2 linked regions of the Homo sapiens genome follow. The protein of the gene in region 1 interacts with the protein of each later gene in a biochemical or structural test. Each region holds a gene or a part of one and is shown on either strand. Other genes may lie near its edges.

Region 1 (3,110 bases):
GCATGGATGTGTGTGTAGTTTTTTAAAGATAATTTCAGACATACAGAAGTCTTGCCTAAATATTGCAGAATTCTATATACCCTTTGACCAGCTTTCCTTTATGTTCGTATCTAATGTCACCAAAAAATATTTATCAAAACCAAAACATATACCTTGGTAGAATACTGTTATTAAGTGAACTACAGAACTCATTGACATGAGTTGCACTAGTTTTTCCACTAATGTCCTTTTTCAGTTCCAATATCCAGTCTAGGACTCCATATTCCATTTAGTTGTCGCATCTCCCAAATCTCCTCCAATCTGGGTCAGTTCCTCAGTCTTTCCTTATCTTTCGTGGCCTTGACATTTTTAAAAGTGCAGGTTATTTTATTTATTTACAGTTTTTTTTTTTGTTCTTGTTTTTGTTTTTTTAGAGGCAAGGTCTCGCTCTGTCACCCATGCTAGAGTGCAGTGGTGGGATTATAGCTCACTGCAACCTCAACCTCCTGGGCTCAAGTGATTCTCCCGCCTCAGCCTCCCTAAAATATTTTGTAGAGATGGGGCCTCACTATGGTTGTCCAGCTTGGTCTTGAACTCCCAGACTCAAGCAATCCTCCCGCCCTGGCCTCCAAAAGTGCTAGAATTACAAGTGCGAGCCACCATACCTGGCTTTTTTTTTTTTTTTTTTAAATAAACACTGTTTATTTTTTTGAGATGGGTCTCGCTCTGTCACACAGGCTAAAGTGTAATGGTGACCATAGTTCACTGCAGCCTTGAACTCCTGGGCTCAAGTGATCTTCCCACTTCAGATTCCTGCAGAGCCAGGACTACAGGCACATACCACCATGTCTGGCTCAGGTCAGTGATTTTAGAGAATGACCCTCAATTGAGGCCTACCTAATGTTTTCTCATGACTATTGGGTTGGTGCAAAAATGAATGCGGTTTTTGTCATTACTTTTAATTGTTTTGCCATTACTTTTAATTGTTTAAGGTTACACATTATTGGGAAGAATACCATAAAAGCCATGTGTCCTTCCCAGTGTCTCAGCTATCTGATGTCTGTATGGAGTACTTCTGACGTTCACCTTGATCACTTGGCTGAGGTGGTATCTGCCAGGCCTCTCCAAGGTAGACTTAGTATTTTCCTTTCTTTTTTTTTAATTAAAAAAAATTTTTTTAAATAAAAATAGAGGCAGAGTCTCACTATGTTGCCCAGGCTGGTCTCGAACTCCCATTTCAAGTGATCCTCTTGCCTCAGCCTCCGGAAGTGTTGGGATTACTGGCACGAGCTACCACACCAGGCCTAGACTTATGGCTCTAAATATTACTTACGGCTCCAATATTTCCTCTTTGTAAGTACTAAATATTTAGAGGAAATATACTAAAGTTATGCAAATACAATTTTACTTGTATACTAGGATGGAACAGATAAGTAAACATATTGTAGACAACAAGAGCAAGGTTTTTCACTACAGGAGAAAGAAGAAACAAGGAGAGTTAGACTGGACTGGAGTTGGAGGTTTCTAGATGAACTCATGTTTTTTTCTTTTTGACAGCTAAACAGACTGTTTTTTAAAAACCTGAATGTTACCAAAATTTAAAAATTGATCGATTTAACGGCCACATGTATTTTTTTAAAAAAGCTTTACATGTCTTGTGAAAATATTAGAATACCAGCCAACGTTAGGCCCATCCTCCTTCATGGCCACAGTCTGCAGCAGCTGAGTCGAGTGCGCTTCAGTTTAGACCCCTCCCCTCCCCTCCCTGTTGTCTTCTCATTCATTTGCTTTATCTTTCCAGCCTCTGTTGGCTTTTGAGTCTGTGACGCTTTGACTAATCCAACTCCTCAATTTCACAGATCAAACCAGATTAGATTAGTAGCAGAGAAGGGACCAGAGCCCAGATCTCTTTCCTCCCAGTCCAGCATCCGTCCCTCTCCACCATCAGGAGAACAGCCTGCAAACCTTCGCTAGCTCACTCATAATGCCCACCATTTTCCCAGACAGAGGGTGCACTGGGGCTGGCCACAAGCACTCATGGGGTGGGACTGAGGTTCTGGCAAGTGGGAGGGCGGGAGGGGGCCAAAGAGCTGGTTACCAAGGAGGTTTCCTGAGTGGTTGGAGAAGAGGGGTCCCCCACTGGAGCCGCTGTGCACAGCACACGTGGTCTGCAGCATTACGGGCGTGCCATTCACCTGCACCACAGCCGAAAGGATGCCTGAGGTCACCGAGGGCCCGCAAGACTGGCCAAAGACGCCAAAGCCCACCACACTCACAGCCTCGCCTGCCAGGGAAGGAAGGAGGGTGAAGCTGGGGACACCTGTGTTACAGCAGGACTCACACTCCCTAACTCCCATCCCTACCCTCTCCAAACATTCCAAACCTCTCCACCCTTCAAGTTTCTGCTCAGATACTCCTGCCTCCAGAGAGCCTTCCCCATGTCCCCTGGCTGGAAGAGGCTGAGAACTCCACTGAGCTCCTAGCACTGTATCTGCATGACCACTTCTGAGCAACAGGCTGTTCCCTAGTCCTTGTTCCCTGGACAGGCGGGGCAGTGACTTTTAGGAGTTCCTAACACCTACCTACATGCTCAATAAATGTTTGTGGAATTCACACCCATCTCCTCCTGGAACTCCTAAGAAGTCTCTTCGTGAAAAGAAATGGTGATGATGGCTATAATGCAGCCATGACCTTCCTTTTCCAAGTGCAGGGTATGGGGGTAAGTGCTTTACAGGCAACGTCACACCCAGCCCTCACAACACCCAGAAATAGGATGCATTAGCCCCATTTCAAAGACGTGGAAAATGAGGCAGAGGATAGTTAACTAGCCTGTCCAAGGACATGGGACTAATAGGTGGCATAGGAAAGATGCCCATCCAGAGCCCCTGGACCCTTCATCACTGTATCACACTGCCTCCATGGAGTGCAACATCAGTACTTATGTGGCAGCATCACAAAGCCTTTTACCCAAATCGTGCCCCTGGAGCCTTGAAAGTGCCACATGCCTCTCTGACCAGCCTGAAGTGTTAAGGAACCCCAAAGGCCCAGCATCCTCACACTACATTGCTGCAGGCACTCGGGGAAAGGGCGTGCAGCATTATCCTTCCCAGGGCACTCCATGTGCCCCACCA
Region 2 (4,181 bases), on another chromosome or scaffold:
ACCCTGGTTACTGTGGGAACAACCCAGTTCCCTTCTGAACCTGTTGCTCAAATAAAGTGACTGTCAGAAGTGGCCATGGTACTTTCAGAGCTTTCACAGATAAATCCCCTTCGAGAGGCCTTTCCTGCTTCAATATTTAAGTGAAGACTTTTAAAAAGGTGCAGAGACACTGGATTTTTACCTCTGCTTTGTTCAGTGGGGAGTTCTTAGCCCACTCAAACAAGTTTTCATACACATTCCCATCATAGCGGCCAAGCACAGAGCCAAGTGTCACATCCTGAAAATCAAATGCATCAACCAAAGCAACAGCATCTGAGCGAATCAGAGTGAGTAACTCCTTTACACGCTGGTTTACTTGTGTAATCTGAGGCTCTGTCATGATGCTCCCCTAAAAGAGACCAAAATAAGTAAATAAAACATATATATGTATATAGATAGACATAATTATATGCATATACAGCTATAAAGCGGATGACAATTATTTTTTTCTTTTTTTTTTTTTGAGACTGAGTTTCACTCTTGTTGCCCAGGCTGGAGTACAATGGTGTGATCTTGGCTCACCGCAATCTCCGCCTCCCAGGTTCAAGCAATTCTCCTCCCTTGGCCTCCCAAATAGCTGGAATTACAGGCATGCGCCAGCACACCTGGCTAATTTTGTATTTTTAGTAGAGATGGGGTTTCTCCATGTTGGTCAGGCTGGTCTCGAACTCCCGACCTCAGGTGATCTGCCCGCCTTGGCCAAAGTGTTGGGATTACAGGCATGAGCCACTGTGCCTGGCTATTTTTCTTTTTCTTTTTTTTTTTTTTTGAGACAGAGTATTGCTCTGTCACCCAGGCTGGAATGCAGTGGTTTCATCTTGGCTCACTGCAACCTCTGCCTCCAGGGTTCAAATGATTCTCGTGCCTCAGCCTCCCTAGTAGCTGGGATTACAGGCATGTGCCACTGCACCTGGCTAATTTTTGTATTTTTAGTAGAGACAGGGTTTCACCAGGCCAGGCTGGTCTTGAACTCCTGACCTCAAGTGATCACCGTACCCGCCTTGGGCTCCCAAAGTGCTGGGATTACAGGCATGAGCCACCGTGCCCAGCCAACAATTATTTTTCTTAAAACAACAACAAAAAAGACTTATACTTAGAAAATACTGACCTGAAGGAAATCCCCCGCGTTCTGACTGATTCCATACAGAGAATACAGCAGACATAAACTCCTTAAGACAGCTTGAATGGCTTTATCTTGAATTTTGAGGAGTTTTTCTGAAAAGAGCTTAACTACCACATAGTGGCAATGTGCCTAAGATTAAAAAGAAAACACCAGAGTTTGAGAACCTTGGAAAAAGATTCAATATACAGTGACTAGGGTTTCTGTACCAGAAAATGCGGGATGCTGAGGGCAGGGAAGGGGAAAAAGAGAGAACTACCACTGACCTCACTTGCTCGAACAAGGTCAACAGAAGTTAGGTTCCAAGCTACCTCCTTGCTTTTTCTGTGAATCACTTCTTTTTGAAGGTTTTTTGCAGCAATTTCTACTAATCTGTTAAGACATAGATTGGAGGTCTGAGGAAATGATCAACAGTACTCATGCCTTCTTGCCATCTGTCAGGGCCCCAGCCCCACTGCTGCGTATTCTAGCTCTTGAGGGAGAGCTCACCTGGCTGCACGGAGTTTATATGCTTCGGTTAGGCTTTCGGGGCTGTTGATATCCACCATGGTTGGCCAGACTGCTACCTGCTGTGGCTGGATGCGCTGACTGGGCAGGTCGTTCAAATAGGACACCATGCCACACACCAACTTTCCTGAGTGCACCTGATCATAACTTTTCATCAGGAACCTAAAAGTCACCAGTAAACATGCTTTTAGTAACTCTACTTTCTTTTGTTTCTTTTGAGATGGAGTTTCATTCTTGTTGCCTAGGCTGGATGGAGTGCAATGGCCAGATCTCAGCTCACTGCAACCTCCTCCTCTTGGGTTCAAATGAATGATTCTCCTGCCTCAGCCTCCCAAGTAGCTGGGACTACAGGCACCTGCCACCATTCCTGGCTAATTTTTAATATTTTGTTTTTTTAGTAGAGACAGGGTTTTACCATGTTGGCCAGGCTGGTCTCTTAACTCCTGACCTCAAGTGATCTACCCGGCTTGGCGTCCCAAAGTGCTGGGATTACAGGAGTAAGCCACCACACCTGGCCTTTTTTTTTTTGATGGAGTTTTCGCTCTTGTTGCCCAGGATGGAGTGCAATAGCGCAATCTTGGCTCACTGCAACCTCCGCTTCCCAGGTTCAAGCGATTCTTCTGCCTCAGCCTCCCAAGTAGGCCGGGATTACAGGCAATGTGCCATCATGCCCGGCTAATTTTTTTGTATTTTTTTAGTAGAGACACGGTTTCACCATGTTGATCAAGCTGGTCTTGAACTCCTTACCTCATGATCTGCCCACCTCAGCTTCCCAAAGTGCTGGGATTACAGTCATGAGCCACTGTGCCCAGCCCAGTAACTCTATCCTTGATACAACTGCAAGCTATGTAACAGGTGCTTCATACTCTCTAGCCTCACCACGAAATAAAAACCGTGAGTCAGGATGGAAGGCAAAAGTATACCTTTCAGGAACAAATATATATATACGGTGAAGAAAAACCATGGGAACAAGAACCTAGGAAAAGGACTAGAACATTCTTATGAACAGATGGGAGGAATCGAGGATTTGACTCTCACCTAGCCGTCTGGAGCATCATGACAGTGTTTTCTCCCTCAAAGGTACAGCTTGGGGTGAAATTGACATAAATATTTGGAAGACCACTGCAATGAGAATAGCCATGCCCACCACAAGCCATCCGACATGCTTCAATGCCAGTGTTTGCAGTCCAGGAGGTGAAAGCCTTCAGTCCAGCGGTGAGGGCATGAAGCTGAGAGGACAAGCACAGATCTGTCAGGACATCTGTGGTGCTGAGAGCCCGAGAACCAATGAGAAAACACACCCCTCCTCTAACATCTTGGCCACTGTCAAAACACAGCTGCCACACATGCAAACTGAAGAAGCACAGCTGTCCGACTGGCCAGAAGAATACAGAACACTACCCATGCCCATCTAAGCTGTTCTACTTGGCTAAACATTCACCACTTACATTTCCTTGATTGACAAATAATCAACATGGTACAGTATTTCTGATAACACTAAAAATACTGAACAACAAACCCCACAGATCTTCATATCTGATCTACTTTCAACCAGAAGAAGTTCTCAGAATACATACTTCTTTTCAGGAAATACCAACATTTAGTTATCTCTGGACCTCATCCAACAGGCAACCACGAAACAGAAGGGTGCCCATGAGTGAATGAGACCAAACTCATACCTCAGGCAGTTCACTCAGGTCCCCTTGACCAATGCCTTCGTTAATCCGGTGATAGGTCTCCTTCATGTATGCGCCCACAAACTGGAAGGCATAGGCAGTGGCCAGGAGTGGAAAGAGTTTATACTGCTGGGTTTGAAAATCCAAAATCTGTGGTTCTGGTTCACTACGTGACATAGAAAAAGAAAAAAAGTAGTAAGTAAATGTTTATACAGAACTTTCTATATGCCAGGTTCTAATCTAAGCACTTGGTATTTTAACTTATTTAGTCCTCTTAAGGGCACTGTGAGGTAGTTACTATTACTATCTCCATTTTACAAATGGGAAACTGAGAGGTTAAGAATCTGCCTGAGGTCACACAGCTCGTATGTGGCAGGTCTTAGATTTAAATTGAGGCTTTTTTTTTTTTTTTTTTTTTTTTGTGATGGAGTCTCCCTCTGTCACCCAGGCTTTAGTGCAGTGGTGCGATCTTGGCTCACTGCAAGCTCCGCCTCCCAAGTTCAAGCGATTCTCTTGCCTCAGCCTCCCACAGTGGTGGGATTACAGGCATGAGCCACGGTGCCTAGGCTATTTGGCTCCCTAAGACCATGCTGTAATTACCTTGTACTGCGTAGGCTGACAGAATTTTCTGGCTGCAAAGTCCATATCTGTCCTAGTCTTTCCAGTATGACTAAGAAAACCGTAGCTCATAGCAACATACAAAACCAACGCTAGTCAACCTAATAAGAAGGCAATGCCAAAAAGCTCTACTCACCAGATGGCTGAATACATTGTATTTTGACCACAATCTTGGAGAAGACCCAATGGATGGTGTTAAATATTTTGAAGTGTAAGAATTA

Evidence for each region.
Region 2: of the proteins of TYSND1 (region 1) and ACOX1, one has a biochemical effect on the other in vitro, tested with the Homo sapiens proteins (one study listed by BioGRID).

Annotation. Positions count from the first base shown.
Region 1 is NC_000010.11:70,140,591-70,143,700, forward strand, and holds part of TYSND1 (peroxisomal leader peptide-processing protease), read right to left. Parts: intron 2,264-3,110; coding exon 2,078-2,263; intron 1-2,077. UniProt on the Homo sapiens protein: Peroxisomal protease that mediates both the removal of the leader peptide from proteins containing a PTS2 target sequence and processes several PTS1-containing proteins.
Region 2 is NC_000017.11:75,948,070-75,952,250, forward strand, and holds part of ACOX1 (peroxisomal acyl-coenzyme A oxidase 1), read right to left. Parts: intron 3,509-4,181; coding exon 3,346-3,508; intron 2,896-3,345; coding exon 2,705-2,895; intron 1,829-2,704; coding exon 1,649-1,828; intron 1,532-1,648; coding exon 1,426-1,531; intron 1,292-1,425; coding exon 1,148-1,291; intron 389-1,147; coding exon 182-388; intron 1-181. UniProt on the Homo sapiens protein: Involved in the initial and rate-limiting step of peroxisomal beta-oxidation of straight-chain saturated and unsaturated very-long-chain fatty acids.